2 separate regions of the Homo sapiens genome follow, and region 2 is linked to region 1. Evidence: fine-mapped expression QTL. Tissue or cell type: putamen. Region 1 holds a variant in brackets; the other region holds the start of a gene. All regions are shown on one strand. Distances are between the middles of the regions.

Region 1 (8,107 bases):
AGCTACCCTAGGGTTCTTAAACATTGATAGAAGAGGGACCCAGGGGAGGAAAGACCATAATCCTTGTTAATCCGCAGATGGAGGGTTTGAATGTTGGGCTCTGGGTCACCTCTGTGGGAAGTCATTTCTTATACCCCAACCTGGAATAAGGGGACTTTTCACATATAACTATGGTGTCCTTTTCAAAGGAAGATTGCATTGAACCAAGGGTTTATTGTTATCTTGGGATGTGTGTGTGTGTGTGTAAGTGTGCACGTGTGTGTGTGTGTGTGTGTACTTCTTTCTGGATTGTAGAGGTCTGGCATGCGTTCAGAAATTTCCAGAGACAAAGGCCTGGATCTTTCTTCCTTCTTCCAGTAACTCAGATACAATTGGAAGTATCTACCCCCTTAATTGTTGACTTACTGTTTAGGATATAAAGAGGAACTGGAATCTAACCTCCAAAAACTCAAAGGAGCTATTGAAACACAACTAGATATATAAGCTGAAAACCAATTGCATTGGATTTAGGACAATTGAATGTTTGGAATATCTGAGCTATGAGACCTGAGAGACTGTGCCATTTTCCCAATAATAAAATGAGGAGTTAGTCCATTGAGGAAGAGCCACACTCACTTAAGTTGAAATACTTGACTTCTAGCCCCAAGAGTCAGCCTTGCAAGATTTCATTCAAGGAATTTTTGCTTGTTGCTGACTTGTCCCTTTACTATACATGCATCATTCAGGAAGGATGTCTAATGAGATTGTAAAGTTAGAGACAGTAGCTCAGGAGCATTATTGAGCCTTAGGATGATGTAGCAAACAACAATTAGAGTTGTATGTCTTCTGCAAGAGAAGACCATAACTTTCACAAAGTTCAGAAAAGAGTCTGTTCTTTTGCTTGCTGTTATGCCAAGACTTCCACCTTAAACACCTAGATTAAAAACCTCCTACTATAGCAAAGGAGGGCCCTTATTAAACTTCAATGGCCATGAATCAACCCGGACCGTCTAAATGTCTAGACTCAATCATCAGTCCTTCCTTCTTTCCCAGAAAATGTTGGTAATGATGGTAGAAGACTGATCAAAACAGAAAGCATCCTGCAACCATAGCTGTCTATCCTTATCTCTCTTCCCCTCCCCCAAACACACACCAAAGCCTCAGATGCTATCAGATGAATTGCATACTCTGCTTTAGGTTCAAAGCATAAATGGAGGATGGAAATCTAACACTTGTGGAAGCCGAGGGAGGTTCTCATTTACAGGAGGCTAAGACTCATCTCCAAGATGATCCAAATTTATTTCATCCTGTATCATGATGAGATTCATAACTGGCTCACGGATTGAAAGGAGGTCCTCTTTCACTACACAGAGGAAGGACTTTTCAGGGAGTCACAGCCTGCAGATCTGCTATCCAGACAGCAGATGTCAGTAAGAGCCTCAGAGTCACCAGCATACGTTTTTAGAATGCTAGGTTTCTCTTGTCCTACAAGTCAGCCTGAGGGTTTAGATCACTCAGCCCTTGATATCTAAAGCCACAGCATGTTATCTCAAGGTGCTAGAGCTCAAAGGGAAATGACAACAGTTTGGCCAGATAGTGTGGTCATTACGGGAGTCTTATACAGAGAATCTTGTCCCATGGCTTCACTTAGTGTAGGTTGGGAAAGCATTAAGAATAGGTTTCTCCATGTTTTGAATGCCAACAAATAATGGAGAATGTGCCTTCCTTTATTGACTGTCCGTGTAAGAGGCAATCATGATCTCATTCTCCCCTAAGCTTGCTTTGTCCAAAATGTTACCCCAGAGACTTACAAGGGTCCTGCCACCAGTGATCTTTGAGTGGCAGGATGGGATCTCTGAGAAAGGAAACTTCTATACCATCTCCACCTCCCTCACACCAGTGTCGACCTTGGATGTGGAGAGATGGAGGCCTTCACACAAGTTTCTCTGTTGACCACTCCTAACCCTGGATCTGGAGTCTCCTCTGCTGATGTCCATAGAGCTTGTGGCCACTTTCCATGTCCGACTATTTCCTTTGACAGGAATTTGACTCTTCAGGAATTTTGTACTTATTACTCAACATCCATTCAAGACCAATTGGCCTAGGCCAATGTTGATGTTAAATTTCCCTAATAATTAAAGACATAAAAGTTACAATTATCATAAGATGGGAGAAAATCAGAATGGCAAAGAATAAAAAGGTGGCCAATAGCCCACTGGCTACAATGAAGCCATGATCACTCATACAGCAGCTGCAGGAGTTTAAACTGATGGCCCCTTTGGAGGCCCAAATTTTGCATTTGTGTGTGTGTGTGTACACACACCTAAGTTTTCTGTGAAGTCCATACTCTTTAATACCTACTTCTACTCCTAGGAATGTATTCTACAGAACTGTTCATTCAAGTACATAAAGCTGTATATGTGTTATATGTACAAGGGTGTTCATTTTTTATAAAAGAGCAAATATTGCAAACTTCTAACAGCTGACTGATAATAGTACTGCTCTACAATGGAACACTATAAAACTGTTAACAATATATGCTGGCTATCTTTTCACTTTTTTTTTGAAAATTTTTATTGTGGTAAAAGCGTATTTAACATAAAATTTGCCATTTTAACCATTTTAAGTGTACAATTCATTGGCATTAATTACATTTACAATATTGTGCAACCATTACCTCTGTTCCCAAAACTCTTTTTCATCACCTCAAATAGAAACTCTATGACCATAAAGCAATAACTTCCCATTTCCTCCCTCTATCACCAGTCTCTGGTAAGCTTTAATCTACTTTCCATCTCTCTGAATTTGTCTATTCTAGATATTTTATATAAACTGTCCTATTGCTAGTTTTGATCAAATGGAAATATACTGTTTTGAAAGAAGAAAGCGTAGTTACAGAAGAAAATAAGCTTAAAAACTAGGAAAATGAATTTTGGTAAGTAAGATCCCCTTTAGAAAAAACAGGGAAGAAACTGAAAAACTGTAGACTATTTCACATTTTTTGTTACCAAAAAATGAGGTGAGTCAAGCCCCTAGTTGGAATCTGGCCAAGTTGAGTTGAGGGCTGGGTGAAGGTTGAGCTGTTAGCGCACCAGCATCAGCTGCTCTGGAAATGTGGACACAAATCACAAGAATCATGATTTAATGTTTCTGTTTTAATCAGGAGAAAACACATACAAAGGAAGCAAATAATCACTAGAGGCCTAGCAAGTGGTTGACCACCCTGTCTTGGAAAGAAGGGCTGGGATGAGGTTTGGGGGTCTGGAGCTGAAGGACAGACTTTGAGTCTTATGTCAAATGATTGTTCTATAGTTTGTAACTTGCAAACTTCTGGGTTACATGCAAACCTCTTGTATTGTCCATTAACTTGGGTCATGGTTAAGATAGATTATCAATAAATATGTATGGGTTCAAAAAAATTAAGTTGTCCTATTGTATCTAGCTTATTTCATTTAACATAATGTTTTCAAGGTCTGTCCATGTTGAGTATGGTCAGAACTTTACTCCTTTTTAGGGCTGAATCCATTTCATTGTGTGCTTGTACCTCATTTTATTTATCCATTCATCTGTTCATGGACACTTGGGTTGTTTCCACATTTTGGCTGCTGTGAACAATGCTGTAATGAACATGAGTGGACCAATATTTGTATGATTTCCTGTTTTAACTCTTTGGGGTGTATACCCTGGAGTAGAATTTCTGGGTTGTGCAGAAATTCTATGTTGGGGCTTTTGGGGGAATTGCCAAATTGTTTTTCACCTCGACTTCACCATTGTACATTCACAGCAGCAATGTGCAAGAGTTTCACTTTCTCTGTATCCTCACCAACACTTGTTATTTTCTATTTTTTCCCTTCTGAGGTTTGCTGACTTAGAAGGTGTGAATTCATATTATTTTTTAGGTTAAATAAAAATCATGTTTCAGAATAAGATATAGTGGTGTATCCTACCAGAGATGATGTATTACTAGAGATTAAGTTTGTAGGTCCTCTTCCCCCACCAATCTTCTGTTACAATGAACCAATCATTCCACTCCTTGTATTTATTAGAGGTAGCTTCTGAAGAAGCTCCCTAAGAAAGAGTAGGTCCCTTAGAAAAATTACTTAGGGTATCCTTCCTTAGAAGGTAAGACAGGGGTTCCCCTGGAGTCCCTGAGTGTAGCCTCCTTTTGGGGAGGGGGACAAGTGAGTAGCCCCATTGTCTGGGGAAAGGGAAAACAGTCTGGCTCTGTTTTGAGGGCTTAAAGGAAAAAGTGGAGTGGGTTTCCGGGAAGGAATGGAGACAATTGTTTTGTTTGTGAGGTGATGGCCACTGGAACCAGATCTGATTCCCTGCTCTTCTGGGGCCCATGGAAACCTGGAGATTGCCTGCGATCAGGGGAAGGAAGGGAGGGTGACCATTCAGAACTATACCCTTAGGAGCACTGTGTTACTGTTGCAATCAGCTCTTCTCAATCTTTTCCAAATTATGGGACGACTGTAATAATCTTATAGATGGAGATATTAAATCAAAGAGAAGTTGACCATTTTTAAACCTTGGAGAGGCTGCTTCTGGCTGAAGTTACTGGGAGAAGCAATGAAAGAAAAGACAACTTACACTTCTTCACTTCATCTACCAAAATATGCAGTTCTATTTTCGTTTATAGAAACTTCAGGTGATAGATCAGTGATCAACAGTGCCCTGGGAACAGTGCTCCCACGTTTTTCTACACCCCTGACTTTTGCTTCTATGATACTGACTTTTTAAAGAGACAATTATCTTTTTAAACACCCCACCTTCTGGATTTGTTTGATAATTTTCTCACAGTGTTTTTTAACCTGTTTCTGTATCCCTTGAATTTCCTCTAAATTGGAGACTAGGGCTAAAGGCTTAAGTTCAAGTTTA[C/T]ATTTTTAGCAAGAATGTGTCGTAGGCGATGCGGTGGGAGTCATTTTGTATCACATAAGGAGACACAATGTCAGATTGCCCCACTATTGATGATGCTTAATCATTTGATTTGGATGGTGACCGCCAGATGTCACCATTGTAAAGCATGTTTTCCCTTCTGCCATATCGAGTGACCTGTGTAATCTCTTGAAAAATATTCGTGTCGACAAATCCTGTTTAGAATTTTCAAGTACCCGCTGCCCTCCACAACACTTTAATGAATTTGAGACTGTCTTTGTCATCTTGATACACAGTGCTCTGTAATTTATCCTTAAGTGGCTCAAACATGTCAAAATAAAAACTCACAGGATTATGCTAGACACCTAACTTCACAGTGCTCACACCACAGGGAAGGACCACCTTAGTCACTGTGAGAATTCACCATAATGGGCTGGTTGTTATTTTCCCCAGGAAGGGAGGGAAAATGGCTGCCATTGTAAACTGAGGAGCATAGAAATAAGACCAGCTTTGAGGAGGAACGGTGTTTTCTTCTTCTTTTTAAAGATATTTACATGTCAGCGGGTTTTACTTCTTGGAGGTAAATCACTTTCTAAATTTCTCCTTGGACTGTTCATTATAAAGTTGCTGTTTAATCTTCCTGGAACATAACCTTCAATTTTAAAGAATGCAAAGCTTTGTATTATTTGTTTAGTGAATCTATAGCGGTGCTTCCCAGCTTCCCAGTATTTTTCAGATTATTAGCATACATAGAAAGTGATAATATTGACATGATGCACTGTGGTGTGCTAGAGGAGCTTTAGGGGCATCATGTGGGACTTATTTTTCATTATATAATTATAATAAATATAAAATGCACATATTAGAAAATATATTAAAGATTCGATTTACAGGAAATTTCCAAAGACACTCTAAGTTTTTTTTTTTTTTCAAATGAAAAAACTTCAGCTTTCTACTATCAGTTTTTATGCTGGAAATACTGCCGTGAAATTTATGATTAAGAGTTTTAAGTAAAAACCTCTTCAAATTCTTGATAGCGCTCATCAGTGAAACTCTGCATCAGTAGGTGACCAAGTGTTTAACCATTTTTCTTCACAACCTTTGAGATTTTCTAAAAGTTAAAATTACAGTTAACATCACTTATTTTCTTTCATTGACAAATGTAAAGTTGAAATTTTGTGGTAAATTCATTTCAAATCCAATGGAACTTTTTTATATTCAGTATTTCAAAGCAATAATGAAGTTCTTATGAGCAGATCATCCACACATGGTTGGAAGAGTCATCTGGAGTTGCCCAGGCAACACTAAAAGGATTTCAGCTGCAAATGGCTAGCCTACATTTGAAGACGGATTTGTCCCCCACCCCACTACCCTCCGGCCCAGTTGCAAATAAAAGCATAAAGAATAATTCACCAACCCTCTCTGGGCACACCATCCAGCTTCAGTAATTAACATTTGACAATCTTTTTTTTCTTTTTTTTTTTTTTGAGATGGAGTCTCGCTCTGTGGCCCAGGCTGGAGTGCAGTGGCCTGATCTCAGCTCACTGCAACCTCTGCCTTCCAGTTCAAGTGATTCTCCTTCCTCAGGCTCCTGAGTAGTGGGGATTACAGGCGCATTCCACCATGCCTGGTTAATTTTTTGTATTTTTAGTAGAGATGGGGTTTCACCATGTTGGCCAAACTGGTCTCAAACTCCTGACCTCAAGAGATCCGCCCGCCTCAGCCTCCCAAAGTGCTGGGATTACAGGTGTGAGTCACTGCGCCCAACCAAGACAATCTCAATACATCTATTCTTGCCCCATGTTTAAAAATACTAACCAGAGTAGTATGAATCAAGAACCAGACATCGTGTCATTTTATTCAGAAATACTTCAGTATGTAAAAACACCTCATCATTAGTACACCTGACAAAAGTCAACATAATTCCCTTTATTAGGTGATATTCAAATGTATCTGTTGTTTCAAAAGAAGCATGTTAGTTGAATTATCTGAATCCAAAGTCCATTCATGGCATTTCATTGTTTCTTAAGTCTCCAAGTTCTTAAAAAATTTCCCACCCTTCTATCCCATTTCTTTCATGGAGAACTGGGGTATTTGCACTGTAGACTGTTCAACATGACATTCCAAATTTGCTGGGTTTTTCCTCTGGCTCCCACATTTCCTGAAATGGTTAGTTAGATCAAGAGGTTTGATGAGATTCAGGCTCAATTCTTTTTTAGGTGTGAAGCCCTCACAGCTGGTGCTGACTGGTTTCGGCTGCCTTGCATTAGGAAGCTTGTGTCTGTTGGTTCCACTTTGAGCGATGTCAAGACTAATTAGGAGGTTTACAGTTGACCATCTATTCCACCCACTATAAAGTTGCAATCAACTTTTCTCCTAATGGTCTAGCATCCCTTGATGGTTGTTGCCTAGATACAGGAGCTGCAAATGTCAATTTTTAAATCCTATTATTTCTTCCTTATTTATTTGCTGGAATGTTTCTGTAAATAGAAATTAACCTCATCAGCTCTGAAATACAGATTGTACGGAAAGGCAGATACATATTTGATTTTTCCCCTTTCTTTGTTGTTTTTCATAGTGTTGAGTTGTCCTAGCACCCTCCCGGGATGATCAATGGGGTTTAAAAATTTCTTTTAACTATCATTATAAGCTCATGTTTTGTGCTTCAGTCCATTGTAGTCCATGACACTGGTGCTTGAATTGTCCCATTTTAAGCCAGAGGGAACCTCCTCAAGTTGGTTTCTGAGTGCTTATTGACAAGGCCTTAGTGGTTTTTATGGTTTGTCTTTTGCTTTTTAGCACAGCAAGGCATCCCAGGATTACCTTGGATATGTCCTGCCCCAGAGATCAGCCATTTTGTCAAAGATCCCCAGTTTCTTCTAGTGAATTTACATTCTTTTTACAGTCCCCCCACTTTCTATTATATTTGGATTATTAATAATGGCTATTTAAATTTTCTATATTCTCATTATTTGTTTATCTGATATGTCCTTTTCTGGGTTAAAAATTCCATTATGCTTATGATCTTATCCATTTTCATTTATTGTTCTAAGAGATTTTACTAAGATGAAAATAATTTTGGAAGTGCAAAGAGCACATGCAAGAAATGTTCAGGAAAATATGGGTTAAATGGTTGATTTTTCAGGGAAAAGCTGTTTTTTGAGAGGTTGGGGGTGGGTAGAAGACTTGAGGATGGTGATGCTTGATTGTGGGGACCATTCATCTTGCAAGAATTCAATTAAAATTTGAA
Region 2 (8,107 bases), 350 kb after region 1:
GAGATTTCAAATAAGCTGTTGGCTTAAGAGTCTGCAGTTCAGAAGTTAAAGTTATTGTGTATGTATGTGTGTGTATATACATATTTATGTATGACAGAGAGTCTCACTGTTGCCCAGTGTGGAGTACAGTGGAGCCATCATAGCACACTGTAACCTCAAACTCCTGGGCTCAAGCAATCCTCCCGCCTCCGCCTCCTGAGTAGCTCAGGCATGCGCCACCCTGCCCAACATAGAGACAAGGTCTCACTATGTTGCCCAGGCTGGTCTCAAACTCCTGGCCAGAAAATGCTGGCATTACAGATGTAAGCCACTGTGCCCACACAAGAATTATTATCTTAAATATTCCTTAAGCTTTGAAAGTTGTATTCATGGCTGGGTGCAGTGGCTCACGCGTGTAATCCCAGCACTTTGGGAGGCTGAGGTGGATGGATCACTTGAGGTCAGGAGTTGAGACTAGCCTGGCCCCAACATGGCAAAACCCCAACTCTACTAAAAATAAAAAAATGAGCTGGGCGTGCTGGCATGAACCTGTGGTCCCAGCACGCGGGAGGCTGAGGCAGAGGAGGCAGAGGTTGCAGTGGGCCAAGATCATGCCACTGTACTCCAGCCTGTGTGACAGAGCGAGACTCCATCTCAAAAAAACACAAAGTTGTATTCATACCTCCAGGTCCTTTCGAATGTTCTCAAACTCTTCAATGTCATCAAGCTTTAGCTCTAGGCGTGTTGGTTTCCGTCTCAGCATACTGAAGTCAACACTAAGGGCCAAACCCAGTGAACTATTAGCTGTTAAAAATGAAAGAGAGGAGGAAAATCTGAAGGTGATAAAGTCTCAGATACAAAACATAAAATCAATTTGCAAGCATGTATACTAAAGTGAATGGAAATATTAAAAATTTATTTGAATTTACACATAGACTTCTAAAGTCTTTTTTTTTTTTTTTTTAAGAGATAGGATCTTGCTCTTTGCCCAGGCTGGAGTGCAGTGGCATGACCTTAGCTCACTACAGCCTCAACTTCCTGGACTCAAGCAATCTTACTGCCTCAGCCTCCAGAGTAGCTGGGACTACAGGCGTACACCGCCATACCTGGCTAATTTTTGTGTTTTTTGTAGAAATGGGATCTCTCTCTGATGCCCAGGCTGGTCTCAAACTCTTGGGCTCAAGTGTTCCTCCCTCCTCATTTTCCCAAAGTGCTGGCATTATAGGCAAGAGCTACTGTACCCAGCCAACTTCTAAAGTCTTTAGGTATGTGATTATTACATTTTTGTTACATTATGGAGATCTACAGCTCTATAAAATCAAAAACTCTTTCTGTAAGAATTTAAAATAGCAAACTGCCTATAAGAGAGAAATTCTAGGCAACCATCACTTTAATCTCATGTTCCAGTCACATTCAAAGAACTACTCTAGCTAAAAGAATAAACTATCACATCTTAGTATAGTTAGAGGAAAAAGTGGACAAACCAGTGAATTTAATCTACCCTACATGAGAATTGTCAGAGATTTGTGATCACTCTTGAATGCTAAAATCAGTTTGCTAAATCTCAGGAAAACTCCAACTCACCAATTCACAGGATTATCCTCCGCGTCCAAACAGATCTTAAATGTGTACGTCATTCATTAAACAAACACTTCTTGTGTTCCAGCTACAAAGTTAAAAGGTACAGTCATAATCTGTGGGGAAAACAAAGAGAAAACTGTGATATCATGTAATGAGAACCCTGATGAGGATACTAGCACTGGCATCACACAGGCACCTAATCCAGTCTGGGCTGAGTGTGGGGTGGACAAGGATGTCAGGCAAGCCTTCCTGGAGAAAATGATGTCTTAGTTGACTTCTGAAGGTCAGGCAGAGAGAAGAATGCACAAGGAGGCTCAAGTACAGCTTTGGTAACGTAGCAAGACCCTGTCTCTACAAAAAAGTAAAAAAAATAGCTGGGCTGGTAGTGTGTACCTGTAGTCCTAGCTACTCAGGAGGCTGAGGTGGAAGGATCACTTGAGCCCAGGAGTTTCAGGTTGCCACCGTGAGCCATGACCTCACCATGAGACCCCAACTCAAAAAAAAAAAAAAAAAAAAAAAAAGGCTCAAGAGAGCATTCCACAGCCTGAAATCCCAAGGTAATACTATGTTAACAAAAACCATTTTGTTTTGTTTTGTTTTTGAGAAAACACAACCCCCCAACTGAGTTTAATATCTGTTGATGGCATCATTTGTATATTCTCCACAGCATCCCCTAGAGTGTATCTATAAAAACAGTCAGTAAATGTTTGTTGACTAGAAGGTGAGATCATTCTTGAGCACCGTGCTGTTTTTCCATTCCCATTCTTTACATTCTTATTTTAACACAAAAACCCTGTGAAGTTGACAAAATGATTCCTATTTCACACATAAAGAAGTCATCGAAGCAAGCTGTTCAGTTTGGTTAATAATTTTAGCCTCCTATAAAAATTATAAAGGTCAACATGATAAGCATTAAGTGAAAATGATGGAAGTGAAAACTCCTTGAAAGTATGTACAGATACAAATTATTACACGTATCTAGGATGAAACTAAGGACTGTGAAGTATACAAAGGAAGAAATAGTTCCTTCTCCCATGAAGCTTAGGATACTACAGGTGATATTATCAACACAAAACACTGGCACATTACATTTCAAATTCCTTTGTACTAAATCAGGCATTATCTTCTACCAGATTCCAATGCAGACAAATGGTAGAGAAAGCCAAAGTTCCAAAGAGGGAAAGAGAGGGATAGGGATACCTAAAAGGGGGAAAAAAAAATCTATACATTTTACCTTTTCTGCAAACTGCAAAAAACTGGCCACTAGGGAGCAGTATAGATTAACAGTTAAAAGTGCTGGCTGTAGAGGTTAAAGGGCACAGGTTTTAATCCCACTACACCACCGATCCTGAACAATTCGTTTCATTTCTCACTAGACCTTAGTTCCCTCATCTGTATCCTACTCTGCTGTTGTAGGAAGTCAATAACGTAATACAGAGTAAGCTCTTGGAATATTATTTGGCATTTAATAAATGTTCAATAAATAACATCTATTATTGCTGTAATTGTTCTAGGGGGTTGCATGAGGATCTGGCCAGCTAGGGAAACGTCAATATTTTGAGGATCTCCCACCGCCCATGTGGGGATAAAAACCTTATCCTGTTCGTCTCTAATGCCCCAGCATCCAGCAGGGCAGAGAGACGTACAGAGTTACCTGACACCTTCCTATCCATCATCTTACTCTCAATCTGATACAAAGACCAGGCTGAAGACAAATCAACAAAATCAGGCCGAAGCTCCTCCGCCGGGTCTTTATTTGACTTTGGCACTAGCGGGCTCTTCTAGCTTAATCTCCCGCCGCAGCCCAAATCCACCGCCGAGCCATCAAGCTCAGAGGGGGAGCCTGGGAAGACTTCCGGACCATGGAGGAGAACAGTCCTCGTCCCCTAGCTCCAGGCCTGTACCTCGGAGCCCAGGCAAGGGTTTCTATGGTAACATGGTCCTCGGCTCCAAGAAGACGTAAACGCCCCCGTACGCCCGGGGGGCACAGCGGACCCCGGAAGCCCTTGACTCGCTCCAGAGTTCAGCCCCGAGCCGCGCGAGTCGACTCACCTACCTCTTTTCAAGCCGGCCTAGCCCCTTCCCGGAACCTCGGCTCCCCCCCAACGAAACTACTGCTAAGCCAACTGGACTACACTTCCCAGACTGCTTGGAGCCTCTCTCTCCGCAGAACCTCGTCTTCCGCGAGCTTTTCCTGGAGGTTCTAGGAGGGATGCCCCTCAATGCCACGACGCCATTTCCTACTACGACTTCCATCATGCTCCGCGCCGCTCCGGGGGCGGTGACCCCTCTTGGCCCACGTCTTGTCAGTGACGCACTTCCTGTCAGTGACGCACTTCCCCTCTGCTGGGCGCGCGGTGGACGGTCTGAAAGGGAGTGTTCGGGTTTCGCTGGGGCCTCGCGGCTCCAGAGCCCAGCATGGCTTCCTCGCGAGCCTCTTCCACGGTACAGAGCCCGGGATCCCAGCTCACTCTGGCAGGGAGCGCTAAGGGGGAAGGGGATCTCTGCGGGAAGGGGCCGTTAAGGAGCGGGAGAAGGCGGTGGAGGGCTGAGGAGGAAGGCTGCGGGACTCAGCGGTGTCCTACACAGCGGACCACCGTTTTCCTGATCCCTAAGCGCTTTCGTGGACTGTAGCTTATTTGCACCTCTCCCACTACAGCCCCAAAGGGCAAGCATCTCTTCCGACTCATCCAGTAACGGTGCTCTGAAATAGGGAAGTGTCTTGGCCAAGGTTTATGCCTTTGGCAGATCTCAGAATTTTAATGAGACCTACTAACTCCTACTACCTCACGTCTAGGAACGTTTGAAATGTATACACTTGTAATGTTGTAACTTGTTATCCTTTAGCACCGCGTTGGTTATTTCATCTATCCTTAGTATTTCCCCAGTGATAAGCAGTAATCCGGGAAGCATAAAACACGAGATTGAACACTTCCAACGGAATGAAGTAAACAGATTTCAGAGCAAACCTTTCATAGGAAAATACCCGAGAGAACCTCACTAGTTTTATTAATCCCATCAACCAAAGTGAGGGACTGAAACACCCTCACCCTACCTTCACCTCCTCAAATCAATGAAGAGCGTCTTAAGTAGTGTCCAATTTGTCCTTTCAATTACAGAGGAAACAGGACTGTGAAACTCAGGGTGAGCTTCATCCTCTGGTGAAGTCCGGTAAATTGCCAAGATTAAACCTTAGTTTAATGCAGATCTTTGATTTAGCAGGCAACCAAAACTAAAGCACCCGACGACTTAGTTGCTCCGGTCGTGAAGAAACCACACATCTATTATGGAAGTTTGGAAGAGAAGGAGAGGGAGCGTCTGGCCAAAGGAGAGTCTGGGATTTTGGGGAAAGACGGACTTAAAGCAGGGATCGAAGCTGGAAATATTAATATAACCTCTGGTAAGATGCAAATTGTGAGCCCATCTTTACCTCTTTGTGTAATGAATACCTTTCTAAACTTAAATACCACAGTTTTATAATGTCAAAAAATTACAATTTTTTTTTTTTTAAACAGAGTCTCGCTCTGTCGCCAGGCTGGAGTGCAGTGGTGCGATCTTGGCTCACTGCAACCTCCGCCTCCCGGGTTCAAGCAGTTCTCCTGCTTCAGCCTCCCGAGTAGCTGGGATTACAGGCGCACACCACCACGCCCGGCTAATTTTTGTATATTTAGTAGATATGGGGTTTCACCATGTTGGTCTGGCTGGTCTCAAACTCCTGACCTTGTGATCCGCCCGCCTCGTCCTCCTAAAGTGCTGGGATTACAGGTGTGAGCCACTGTGCCCGGCAGAATTTCAATTCTTAAACTTGCAGCTATAAGGCTGTATTTTGCCTACCCCCTTATTATCATGCAGAGAGCCTTTTTCTTACAATCTGTTATATAGTTTTTCTTCTATGAGTGAGCAGTCTTATCAAAAATTCAGTGTACATTTGGATTCAGATTGATTCCATTTGTCTTCTGGAGATCTAACATAGTTCTGGCATTGGTTTGCAGCTAGAGTGGTTCATGATATTCTCCCTTTTGAAGTTTTGTAATTATTTTTTACCCAAAGTGAAATCTTTTTGTGTGTGTGTGTGTGTGTGACAGGGTCTCACTCTCTTGCCCAGGCTGGAATGCAGTGGCGTAACCTTGGCTCACTGCAACCTCTGCCTTTTGTGTTCAAGGGATTCTCCTGCCTCAGCCTCCCGATTAGCTGAGATTACAGGTGCCCGCCACCACACCCAGCTAATTTTTGTATTTTTAGTAGAGACTGGGTTTCACCATGTTGCCCAGGCTGGTCTCCAACTCCTGACCTCAAATGATCCGCCCACCTCGGCCTCCCAAAGTGCTGGGATTACAGGCGTGAGCCACTGCACCTGACTGAGCTATCTTTTTTTATTATAAAAGTAATAGTGGCCAAGCCTGGTGGCTCACACCTGTAATCCCAGCACTTTGGGAGGCTGAGAAGCGGGAGTCTGGCTTGAGCCCAGGAATCCAAGACCAGCCTGGGCAAATAGTGATACCCCATCTCTACAAAAAGTAGAAAATTAGCTGGGCATGGTGACACGTGCCTGTATTCCCAGCTAATTGGGGTTCTGAGGTGGGGGTTCAAGGCTGCAGTGAGTCATGACTGTGCCACTGCACTCCAGCCTGAACAACAGAGCGAGACCCTGTCTCAAAAAAAAAAGTTATTTTCTTTTAAAAGATCAATGTATAAATGTGTGAAGTAGAAAATCCTGTATTTTTAAAATTAATTGATTGTATATCTTTCTGAGAATTTTAATACAGCTAAAAAGTATGTAATTTTTTCCATAAATGAAAACACAATACGTAAATTGTTGTATAACCCCCATTTTTCATTTATATACCATTGAGGATATCTTTCCATGTCAGTAATGAGAGGTCTACTATATTTTAAAAATAAAATTATGCATATTTGTCCTAAGAAATTCAGACAATGCCAAAGGGCATAAAATGAAGACTCCTCTGCAGTAGGGACATCTGTCAGGTTTCTTATTGATCCTCCCACACATTTTCTAAACACATGCACTGTAGCCTAGTGACTTTTTAAACTTTTAATACTGTTTTTAAACATAACGTCACCACTGTACCTCTCATTTTTTATCACACTTGTATTTTGGTGTGGGTTTCAAAACTATTGCTAGATTATCCAGAAATCCTTATAGTTGTGGAACTCTCATTTTCCTGGTAATTATTTGCAGTTTAGTAGTTAATGATTTGTTAAGTATCCCTATACTGGGTCTCCTTTCGAGAATAAATAGCTTTGGCTGTTGTTACAATAATGTTTCTGTTACATCTTCTGGATAGACAGCCTAGTTAACTCATTTGCAAAAGATGTTCTGTACTCTTACTTGCTGGTCTCAGCCAAAGTGTGTGTTTATATAGGCACAAAGTTAATAAATGAAACAAGAGGTGGCTTGAACCATTTTCTTGCCTTTTGAAGCTGTGTCATTTAGGTTTATGTGTTTGGCATAATTTAATAAACTGAAAAACAGTAAACTATAAAATGTGTAATAGACAGTTACTTTTCCCTCAGGGCATACACAGACTGCAATTACTAGAAATTATTTCTCTCTATTTGAAGAAGATCTGCTGATGTTGCCTGTTTTCTTTTTAATAGGAGAAGTGTTTGAAATTGAAGAGCATATCAGCGAGCGACAGGCAGAAGTATTGGCTGAGTTTGAGAGAAGGAAGCGAGCCCGGCAGATCAATGTTTCCACAGATGACTCAGAGGTCAAAGCTTGCCTTAGAGCCTTGGGGGAACCCATCACACTTTTTGGAGAGGGTCCTGCTGAAAGAAGAGAAAGGTTGCCTTTCTAAATATTTACTTTTTTTCTTTATTATAATCACAGGGTTCTACTCCAAATTTTGGTTGATCATTTAGTTGAACTTTAATAGAATGTCTCAAATCATGTTAACAATATCTTACTGTGTTTATATGAGTTAGCCCATAATCTGTCTTAGGCCAATTTTTACCGCACTATTAATGTTTCTTTTTTGTGTTTGTTCGTTTTTGTTTTGTTTTGTTTTGTTTTGTTTTGTTTTGTTTTGTGTTTTGAGACAGAGTCTTGCTCTGTCACCCAGGCTTGAGTGCAGCGTCGTGATCTCGGCTCACTGCAGCCTCCGCCTCCCGGGTTCAAGCGATTTTCCTGCCTCAGCCTCCCAAGTGGCTGGGATTACAGGCACCTGCCACCACATTTTTCTTTTTTGTATTTTTAGTTATTTTTTATATTTTTGTATTTTTAGTAGAGACAGGGTTTCACCATGTTGGCCAGGCTGGTCTTGAACTCCTAACCTCAAATGATTTACCCACCTTGGCCTCCCAAAGTGCTGGGATTACAAGCGTGAGCCTTCGTGCCTGGCCCGTTTTTCTTTATAGACTTGGAAGAGGGTGCTAACATGCTCCCTTGCCTCCCCTCCCCAGTGCGAGTTTTGAATTGGATAAACATTTGTTGTTGGGCTTTGAAAATTGAGACATCAAATGCATTCCATATCAATGACATAGAACAATGATAAATGTTTCTTGGATTTTATTGAAGAGGGGTACC

What was found. PIP is the estimated chance that this variant, and not a neighbour inherited with it, causes the effect.
Region 2: it holds the start of CDC26, and the variant in region 1 is fine-mapped to the expression of CDC26 in putamen (GTEx, PIP 0.92).

Annotation. Positions count from the first base shown.
Region 1 is chr9:112,920,269-112,928,375 of GRCh38, forward strand. No RefSeq gene overlaps it. Among named protein-coding and RNA genes, the nearest start is that of SLC46A2, 33 kb to the left of the region's middle. The variant C/T (reference allele first, on the strand shown) is at 4,861.
Region 2 is chr9:113,271,766-113,279,872 of GRCh38, forward strand. CDC26 (cell division cycle 26) reads right to left here and starts at 3,807. Exons shown (of 4, transcript NM_139286.4): 1 at 3,617-3,807; 2 at 1,564-1,673; 3 at 662-783. The coding sequence starts at 742. It overlaps PRPF4 (pre-mRNA splicing tri-snRNP complex factor PRPF4), which reads left to right and starts at 3,893. Exons shown (of 14, transcript NM_001244926.2): 1 at 3,893-4,005; 2 at 4,783-4,960; 3 at 7,180-7,366. The coding sequence starts at 3,979. RefSeq lists enhancers at 2,918-3,773, 3,541-3,880.